Linked DNA regions of Homo sapiens: region 2 is linked to region 1. The links come from fine-mapping of genetic effects on gene expression. Tissue or cell type: whole blood. Region 1 holds a variant in brackets; the other region holds the start of a gene. All regions are shown on one strand. Distances are between the middles of the regions. Region 1 overlaps MCTP2 (multiple C2 and transmembrane domain containing 2). Region 2 holds the start of MCTP2 (multiple C2 and transmembrane domain containing 2).

What was found. PIP is the estimated chance that this variant, and not a neighbour inherited with it, causes the effect.
Region 2: it holds the start of MCTP2, and the variant in region 1 is fine-mapped to the expression of MCTP2 in whole blood (TOPMed, PIP 0.96).

The regions. Positions count from the first base shown.
Region 1 is chr15:94,482,367-94,487,754 of GRCh38, reverse strand. It overlaps MCTP2 (multiple C2 and transmembrane domain containing 2), which reads right to left. Exons shown (of 23, transcript NM_001385001.1): 23 at 3,803-5,388. Among named protein-coding and RNA genes, the nearest start is that of LINC02852, 100 kb to the left of the region's middle. The variant T/C (reference allele first, on the strand shown) is at 2,322.
Region 2 is chr15:94,228,775-94,234,162 of GRCh38, reverse strand. It overlaps MCTP2 (multiple C2 and transmembrane domain containing 2), which reads right to left and starts at 2,602. Exons shown (of 23, transcript NM_001385001.1): 1 at 2,499-2,602. RefSeq lists a silencer at 2,543-2,672 and an enhancer at 4,208-4,347.

The DNA of each region.
Region 1 (5,388 bases):
GCGGTTTAAATTCACTGTTTCTTTGTTAGTTTCCTGTCTAGATGATCTGTCTAAAGCTGTAAGTGTGGTGTTAAAATCCTGAACTATTTTTGTATTGGAATGTATCTCTCCCTTTAGATCTAATAATATTTACTTTATATATCTGGGTGCTCCGGTGTTGGGTATATATAATTAGTTAGAATTGTTATTTCCTTTTGCTGAATTGATTCCTTGATCTTTATGTAATGACCTTCTTTGTCTCCTTTAATAAATTTGGATTTAAAGTCTGTTTTATCTAATATAAGTATAGGCACTCCTTTGGTTCTGGTTTCTGTTTACATGGAATGCAATGTCTTTTTCTATCCCTTTACTTTCAGTCTGTATGTGTCTTTACAGTTGAGATAGATTTCTTTTTTTTTTTTTTTGCCTGTATAATCAGGTCTTTATTCAAAAGAAGCTGTCCATGATGATTTGACCTTTATGGAATAATCAAATTTAAGAGTTTATGCAGCAGGCTTCTTTTCCTCTGTAGTAAGTTTCTTTTCTGCAGGCTTCTTATTTCTTATAGGCAGCATATAATTGGTCATTTTAAAAATACATTCTGCCAGTCTATATCCTGTAAGTGTAAAGTTTAATCTATTTACATTCAAAGATATTACTGATATGTGAGGGCTTATTCCTGTTATTTATTAATTGATTACTGGTTGTTTGGTATATCATTTGTTCCTTTCTTTCTCCATTAATGTTTATTATTGTGGGTTGATAGTTGTCTGTAGTGGTAATATTTGTGTCCTTTCTCTTCTTTATTTTTGTGTTTGTGCTACCATTTAGTTCTGTACTTTCATGTGTTTTCATGATTGTAGATGGTGTCTCTTTCCTCCCAGGTAGGACTCCCTTAAGCATTTCTTGCCAGGCCAGTCTAGGGTGATGATTTCTCTCAGCTTTTGCTTAGCTTGGAAAGATGATGATGACGATGATGATGATTATTATTATTTTCAGCACTTTGAATATATCATCTCATTCTCTCCTGGACTGTTAAATTTCTGAGGAGAAATTCAATGTTAGTTTGATGAGGGTTCCCTTATGAGGCACTTGATGCTTTTCTCTTGCTGTTTTTAAGAGTACTCTCTTGATCTTCCACTTACTACAATTTGATTATAATGTGCTGAGGAGAAGACCTTTTTGCATTGTGTTTTGGAATCTCTAAACGTTCTGTATCTGAATGTCTAAATCTCTTCCTAGACTTAGGGTGTTTTCAGCTATTATTTCAATAAATAGGTTTTCTAACTTTTTTATTTTCCCTTTGTCTTGTGGAACACCAAAAAATTTGATCACTATAAGGTATCTCATATGTCACGTAGGCTTTGCTCAATTTTTTTTTATTTTTGTCTGTGTTATTTTAAAAGACGTGTCTTCAAGTTTTGAAATTCTTCTTGATCTAGTCTATTGTTGAGCTATTGAAAGTATTTTGTATTTTACTTAATAAATCATTCAGTTCCAGAATTTGTTTTGTTCTTTATGACATCTATCTCTAGAAAATTTCTCATTCATATACTAACTTGTTTTTCTGATTTATTTGTATTGTTTTTCTGTATTCTCTTGGATCTAACTGAGCTTCTTAATATTGGTATTTTGAATTCTTTATCCAGGATTTCATAGATTTCTTCTTTTGGTTAATCTGTTGCTGGGATTTTATGTCCCTTTGGAAGTACTATCTTTGCTTTTTTTTTTTTTTTTTTTTTTTCATGTTTCTTGTGTCCTTACACTGATATCTGAACATCTGTCATGACAATCACTTCTTTCCATTTTTTAACTTGCTTTCCTAGGGCAGGGCTTTTTCCTGAAGATGTGTCTGTGGTGTTTGTTGGGTATGGTACTTTGGCTTTGATTCTGGGTGTATGCAGTAGTGTAGCTCTCATGATTTCTTTGGCTCTAAATAGCTTCACTGGTGTCTGTGATTTTCGTCAGTGGCCTAGGTTGTGGTTATTAGGGAAGGCTGTGGTGAACTTTTGCTTGTGAAAAGGACACCAGATGGGCCTGTCCTTGGGCCCTAGGACAGTGTATGCTGGCACTGTGCTAGCAGACCCAAGCCAGCCAATTCTTGGGCCTCCAGGCAGCTTGTTTGGGTGATGATAGTGGCAGTCGTGGGCTGGTGGTAAGTGTGTCCTTGGGCACTTGGGCAGTTGGCATGGCATGGGTGAAGCAGTAGTAGTGGTAGGACTAACCTCTGAGTCCCAAGAGCTCCACAGTGGTGTTGGCAGTGGTTGTGACAGGCTGGGCAGGCCAGTCCCCAGGCCCACAGGTGACACGTGTATGTGTGTGTGTGTGTGTGTGTGTGCTCA[T/C]TGTGATGGTAGTGGCAGGTTGGGTGGCCCCAACTTCAGGGCCCTTGTTGGAGTGCTCAGGTGCCAATATTGGTGGACTGGGCTGAGTACTCCCCAGGCCTCCAGATGCCATGATTTGATACTAGGGGGTGGGGGTCAGAGCTAGGTCCAGTGGACTCATCCTCACATCCTTCAGTAGTGCTTGCAGACACTGACTATGGAAGGCAGGGGCGGTGTGACCCCAGGCCCCAGAATGTTCATGTTGGGGTGGCAGCAGCTGTACTGCACCCCTGGTACAGGGGAGAATAGAGTCACTTTCAATGGCAGCAGTGGCACACAAGTGCCTGGGAAGTGTACATTTCACTTGCCTTTGGCCCCAGTTGAGGCAGCCCACTGCTATGGCTGTCACCTGGTGGATTTGTTGTCCTTAGGGTGATTAAAAGCTGCACAGCAGCTTCACAGTTGGGAGCAGTGTGGTAGCTGCCAACAGCTCACACTTAAGCCCTACAGGTAGCAGGCAGCTGGAGTTGTGGCTGCAGGTGAAGCATGTCATTGGGGTTCCAGGGATATGAAGATGCAGGGGCTGTAGGGCCCAGGACAGAATGCAGTCTGGTGAGGGCTGAGATATCCAAGTGACAACTTGCTGTAGCTGCTTAGGACTTGGGGGTGTGTGGGATTATGTGTGCTCCCTCTCTGGGGCAGTATCGTCACACGGTCTTCAGGTAGCTCCCTATGTTGGTCTGGGGGCTCACAATAGTCTAGGGGCATTCCTATGGCTGGAATGTGGGAGTCTGTAGTGGGAACGTTGATCACTAGGAGTCACCCACTTACTCTTTTCTCATACTGGGAAGCCTTTCCTGGCTCCTAGCCTATCCCACCTGAACAGACTGTATTGCTTTCTTTCCCTTCCTTGCTTTAGGTGTTTCCTGTCACTTATCTGTAGAATTCCAGCATTCTCTCTTATATATGTGAACTGTGATTATCTACTCATTATTGTCTGGTCAAGTATCTGGAAGCCTCACTGATGTTTTCAGTGTAAAGACTTCTGTATATCTTTCACAATTTTGTATCTTCATAAGGGATTTTCTTAAGTAGTTTTCCATTCTGGTAGAACTTAGTTGGTTTTGAAGGAGAGTTATGTTGGCCTCATAAAATGCTTAAGAAAGTGGTTTTTTTTCTTTTGTTATTGTCTAGAAGAGTTTGTATAAGAGCGACAGGTTTTTTTTTTTTCCTATAAGTATTTGGAGAAATTTCAGTTTTTAGAATTATTTTGAATGAGCAATTATATCTAAAACACTTAGAAAGTAACTGGCATTTGATAAATGCCATAAAATATTAGTATTCTTGTGTGCTTGAATATCCATTTTCCTGTGTAAATCATTACATAAATGCTAGGACAGAACAGCTGTGGGCTTTACACAGAGGTAACATGCTTGAAGCCATTCCTTTAGAAGTCACCCTTCAGGATTTCAGCATTTATTCAATTATCAGTTACTACTCAATGCATTTTCAGGCAATTTTTATTTTAATTTTTCAACTGTTCCGTTGTCACAAGATTCCTAATACATAAATGAGAGGCAGGTTTTGATAGAACATAGTTTTTTTTAAAGTTCAGGGGTAACTGTGCAGGTTTGTTACATAGGTAAACTGTGTCAGAGAGGCTTGTCATACAGATTATTTCATCGCCCATGTATTAAGCCTGGTACTCATTATTTTTCCTGATCCTCTTCCTCCTTTCACCCTTCACCCTCCAATAGCCCCCAGTGTATTTTGTTCCCTTCTACATGTCCATGTGTTCTCATCATTTAACTCCTACCTATAAATGAGAACATGTGGTATTTGGTTTTCTGTTGCTGCATTAGTTTGCTAAGGATAATGGCCTCCAGCTGTATCCAAGTTCCTGCAAAAGGACATGATCTCATTCTTTTTTATGGCTGCATAGTATTCCATGGTGTACCTCTACCACATTTTCTTTATCCATTCTATCAATGATGGGCATTTAGACTGATCCAGTGTCTTTGCTATTGTAAATAGTGTTGCAGTGAACATGTGTGTGCATGTGTTTTTATAGTAGAACAATTTATATTCCTTTGGGTACATACCCAGTTATGGGATTGCTGGGTCAAATGGTATTTCTGTCTTTAGGTTTTTGAGGAAACACCCACCCTGTCTTCCACAGCGGTTGAACTAATTTACACTCCAACCAACAATGTATAAGTGCAGAACATAGTTTTCAATAATGAATATGGCTAACTCCATCTCAAGCCCATGAAGAATTTTTTGCAGCTAATAGGGTTACACTGAGGTCATGACACCTCTGTTTTCTTACTAAAATAATCCCAAATATCTCCTTTCATTCCAAATTCCAGCCCTCTCTCTCTCCTTTCTTCTCCACAGTGGAATTTTTCAAGGGTTACCTCCATTCAGAGGCCCCATATTTTCACATCCACTCACTTCTCAACCCAGCGTGGTTTCCATTTCTACCATTCCACTGAAATGGCTTGTTGCCAGGGTGCTTCCAAACTGTCAAACCATTAAGGTCATGATTCTGTACTTATGTGATCTCAGCGGCATTTGATATTATTGACCACATCAGCTTTCTTGCAGTATGCTCTGCCACTGAATTCTAGGACAGTCCATGCTTACTGTTTTTCTCCTCTGTATTTACCCGTTTCTATTTACACTCTTAACTGACTTGCCTTTCTATATATGACATTAACTGTTGAGTTCTTCAAGGTTTAATTTCTTGAAGCATGTAGTTTTGATCACTTTTCATATACAATGTTTGCCTTTAACTTGTGTACATCTCAAGTACAGTGTGTTACTTCTCTGAGAACTATATATTCCATTACCTTGCTGACATTCCTATTTGGATGCTTTTCAGTCACCTGAGATTCAGCGCTAAAACTGGACTCCTGTGGTCCTCTCACAGCAGTTCTTACAGTTCTCTCCCTTAGTGAAAGGTAACACCATCTTCCTAGACCTGGAGACCTAGGGACTGAGAGCCATCCTTGACTCTACGCTCCCTCATCCCATAGTCCAGCAATTGTTAAGTCCTGCTCACTTTATCTCTTCACCATCTCTCAAT
Region 2 (5,388 bases), 250 kb after region 1:
TGAGAACACCTTACCAGGTCAGGCACACTTTTATAAACACCTTCTAGGAAGGACTTAACAGCTCAGCTCCTAAAGAGGAGTTTAAGGTGTCTGGCTGTTTCACCTCCACGTGAAGATAGAGGGAAAAAAAAAATCTGTGCCAAGATTGACGCAGGCAAAATATTCTACCTGATCCTCGCTTCACGGGCAAAGCCTTTTCTCAACAGTTAACTGGCAACAATTCAAGGTAATTTAAATATAAAACCCCTTCCATTTCTGTGTGTAATTACCAACAATTACAAGAAAAGTTTTAAGAAAGCAAGTGTTTTCCACAACAAGAAATATTATTTGAATTCAGAGTACTATTTTTCACTCACTTTCCATTCTCCACAGTATAATAATTTTAATTTGAAAATTACTTTCCTGGTTTACATGCACTTAAAGAAATTGTCAGTTGTTATAAATCCTTTATGCAAAAGTCAAATAAGGAACTTGATTCCTCGCCAGATCATCACATTGCAGTACTCTACAATTTCCAGAAGTAGTACTTCTGGAAATAGGTTTAAGGAAAAATATATATTCGTGTGTGAGCACAGGTTTACACAAACACAAAGTCCTTTCCAGGTGACAAGAGACCGCTAATCATCTTGCAGCTGTAAGAAATCAAGCTGAAATTGATTTCAAAGCCCACTCAGCTGAGAAACTCACCTCTGCAGGAGGAGACCATAGTAAAGCACACCAATAATAGGAAATTAGCTGTTCCTTCCATGTATAACACAGAGAGAATATATATGCAATTTTATTAATTGGCCCTGTTTGGATATATCAGGCCTTTCAAAATATGTTAAGAGACATAATAAATTTTATCTTTTAACATATTTTGAAAGGCCTTTCAAAATATGTTAAGACACATAATAAATTTTATCTTTTAAAGCTACATCTACTAGTCACAGATAGGTCACAGCTTGACCACACAAGTGCAATGAAAACAGTGCTCACTTCATTCCTGAGGACTACTTTAACTCCATTAATCCCCAGGAGATAGGATCTATGAATATAAATTTGAATTCTTATATTAAATCTGCCGGATTTACACTCTCCATCTTAGAGACAGCATGGAATAGTGAAAAAGTACGAGTTCTGCACTCAGAAATAGCCACATGCAATTTCTAAATTCACCACTGACCTTGTACAAATTACTGGACTCCTCTCTGCCTCAGTTCCTTATCTGCACAGGGGAATAGTATCTACTTTGTAGATTTCATAGACAAGACAAAGTGCCTAGCATGGTGCTTGGCACAGAGCTAATTCTTAATAATCTTATTTTAAGCATGGTTTTGACAATTTTTATTGCTTTGGAATGACTGATCAGGCTAATGACAGAGACTCTTCAAAGATTTACATTCTCCCTGCATTTAAATACTTATAACCAGCGATTACACAGGTGCTGCTGAGGCAAAGCGCAGCACCATTGGTCTCGTTCTAAACACCCACCTGTGAGGAATAAGTGCCTTAAGATTCCCCTTTGTATTAATATCAACACCTGTGCTACCCAACAGCACACCAGCCCGGCTCTCAGAGGTCTGCCCGTTAACAGGTGTACAATAAATATTTGTTGAATTGAAATGCTACTGACTCAAGCAAAAAATGAATGCTAATGTAAATTATAATCCATACAAATCCTTCAATAAGTGGTGTCTGAATTCTGTGCGTCCTGAAGCAAGTGTTCTAACGTCTCACGGTTCACTGAGAAGCTGCTTGGTACCTTAAGGGTTCGCACCCTTGTACCTTCCAGACCAAGCTCTTGTAAGCATCTAGAGGAGGCTGAAACCCTCAGTCAGCATCGCACAGAAGTTCATTCAGACTAGAGAAAACCTCTTTTATGGCAACCCAATCATTTAAAAAAAGCCGTCAGCACATTTGCTTAACAAATGGACAGTGCAGGAGGGAACTAATTGCGGAAACTAATCGCCACTCAAGTTCACCACCAACATCACTGTCTTTATTTTTAACTTACTTATCTTCAGTGGGATTGAGACACTGTTTGTTACCTACGCAATTATCCCAAGGATTTCTGCTCCGGTGTCGTTGAGCAAATGTCAGCGCAAAGAATTAAAGTTGAACCTCCGGGTCTCTACGAAGAGAGCGTATTAAAGCCCACCCAGCTGAGGAACTGACCTCTGTGGAAGGAGTCCTGGATGTGGCGGTGACTACCTCCGTAGCGCCCCGGGGAGACTGAATGTGTGGCCTTTAAAATGCAAAGAAATTCTGGGCCAGGCTGCCCTCCCCTAGTGCGCCTTCCAGTACGCCACGCCTGGATTTCTGCCTCCAGTCCTCAGGACACCTTTCTGATCTCTGAACCACAAGCAGCTCCGGGGTAGTAGCGCCACTGAATTCTCATCCTGGACCCTCCAGCTCCCCAACTCCCAGCTTCGGTTGAGAGAAGACGCCCACCCCCAGGCGGCGACCGTGCTGCCCGGCCCACGCGCGCTGCCAGGTGAACCCGGCACCGCCCTCACCTGTGCGAGGCCGCGTTCGGGGGCTGCAAAGCTGGGCAGGCGCGCGCCCCTCACCTGCACCGGACCCGCTGCAGTCGCCACTCGGAAGCGCAGGGAGCAACCCTGACGCGGCGGGGGCGGGGGCATCACCGAGGGCCCCCGGACTTCCTCGGGCCCCCCCACCGCCCTTGCGAGCCCCGCCTAAAGGGGAGGAGGCGGCCGCGCGTCACCTTTGAGCAGCCTCCGACCCAAGCGCCCGCGCTGCCGCCGGGAGCTCGGCCGGGTGTTGCAAGGAGGCGCTATGCTTGGTGCTGGGCACTGGCTGGGCGTAGAGAAGGCGATTACTTGTAACTCATTCGTTTGGGTTGGCTCACAGGAAAAGGAAGGTGTGTCCAAAAAGTCCGAAGTGAGGAAATAGGACGAGGATGGCTTGCAAACTCGTAAAGTCTTAATAAGCTGTCTTCGCTGATACTCAGAAGGGTTCTCTTCGCTCCTGTAGGTCCCTAATAGATTCATGGGAAGACAGCAGCCTCCCTTTGTAACGCCCTGACCCTGGGAAGAGGTACCCGAGCCAGACAGCCTATTAACCTATGCCACGTGTGCGCGACTGTGGGTGGAAGATGCCCGCCCAGATCCACAGAACTGTTTCCTGAGCCTTGGTGCCTCATCTATGAGATAAGGCCGGCGTACTGCTCAGCAAGCCGTCCCGAGTACTCGGCAGAGAACCCTAAAGACCCTCCCGTGCGATTGTTGGCACTCAGCGAATATTTGCTATTTATTTCCCCTTTCCCTTACTTTCTTTTTCTACTTTTTTTTACGCCGCTTTCCTGCTGTAATTGTCTTATTGCACTTTGTTTGCTCGGTTTCACTGCCTGGTCAGTTTCTTTTCCCGTCTATGAACGAGCCTAAGTCTGTGCGCTCTAGGAATTTGGGTGGATTAGGAAAAGAAATGTATGATCCATGCCTTCTGGGAGATCAGGGACTCATCTCTGGGAAATAGCATTTTTAAATTAGATACAAGAGAGTTACAGAAAATAACCTTAAAACGGGAATGGGACCTCTGGGAATAGGCGAGCTCTGAAATGAAGCGTTTAGTTGGTGTCACTGGTGATTAAGAGCTCCGGCTTTGGAGTCAGACCTCAAATCAAATTCTGCCTGGGCAACTAATTGTGTAAATGGACGAGTTCACTTAACCTCTCTAAATTTTAACTTCAACAAACTGGTTGTTTAAATAGCTTAAAATAGCTTAAATAGCTTAAAATAATAGCTATCTCATACTTTCTGAGAAATTAATTAGGTAATTCACATAAAATCCTCATTACAGTGTCCTGGGCCATGGTAACCACTTAATAAAAGTTAGCTATTAACAATACTAAGGTAGGAAATGGGAGGAAGGGGCATAAAAATTTAGAAAACATGAGGACGTGATAGAAAACAGCTGCCACTGTCATGCAATTCCGACTTACAACAATAGCTACCACTGAGGAACACAACTTCGCACCAGTTTCTGTGATTGGCATGTAACACGTGATCATATTGAATTTTCACAAACCAGGAGACAGTTAATAAAATCTCTGATTCAAGATGAGGAAAATGAGCATCAGAACCATGAAATAACCTGCCTGAAGCTATGAGTCAAGTTAGTAGCCGAGTCAGAGCAAGCTGAGGCCTATGGCAAAATTGGCTTTTCCCACCGTGCCGAAGGTTACATCCCCTAGCAGAGAACAGAGAGAGGTAAGGGTAAAACAGCATGAAAGGAAGAAGAGAAAGAGCAGTAGGCAGACGAAGCAATCATACCTTTAAAGCTGACTAAGAATACAAATGAATTAAAATAGTAAGTGAACCCACACAAAAGCTTTTTTGCCTTTAACTCCTGCCCCAGTGGAGTTCCTGTTCTGTGGTTCCGGCAGTCCAACCGCATTTTTCAATCATTAAATGGTATAGAAAGTGAAACAACTAAAGATACAGAAATCTAAGGTCACAACTTGCCCTTCCCACCACAATACACTCATCTGCCCAGCTTCCTGGGTTTTTTGTTTTTAATTGTTCAAACATATTACCTGTCTCCTTTTCTATGTTCCACCCAGGAAATGTCCCTTCCAGGGAATAATATTGTTGCTTATACCAATTTAACTTTACTACATAACCACACCAGCATTTAGAATGGCAACTGGACTCATACATGTAGCTGATAAATTTTTAACACACTTTTGTTATATTGAATTTCTCTAAACAGATTTTGAACCAGGTCTTACATTATAGGCACTGGTCAGTGATGTCATAATTATACTTAAAAAAAAATAAAATCTCCTGCACGTATCATAGGCAGCTTTCTCTCTCTTCTGAGCAACCAGATATTTGGCCTCTGAAGAAATGCCCCTATTGTCAATGTGATAATTGAGGTGGAGATTTCCCACTTTCAGATACAATTGCTTTTATATCTTAGACAATGTATGTTTGGTTGCATGACAATCTAATATTGGCACCTCTTCTTTTAAATTGTAAATGGAAGATGTGTCTTCTGAAGGCCCAGTGTACTCCTTGGCTATCATGGCTATACTGCCTGTCATACATGCAGAAGCACGGTTAAGTGCATACAAAGGCTAGATAACAATTAGTGCAGTTATCTAGCCACGTCCCTGTGCCTTTTTGAATGAGCCAGAGTATTTCAAATGAAACAAATGAAAATTGCTGTAGCCACCCAGAGTCTTTGACAATGAGGGTTAAAGCAGTCTTCTCTAAAGAAGACAAGACCCTGTCTGTAAATGCATAGGATCTAGAGTTCCATATCTTCTCTGCTCAGTGGGAGCCTCCTTGGGTCATCCTATCAGAGTTGGCCATGCAGTCAACACAGTCTGGCTCCATTTGGAGGACACAGAGCTAATCTTGCTGGGACAAGTCCCTTTATGTC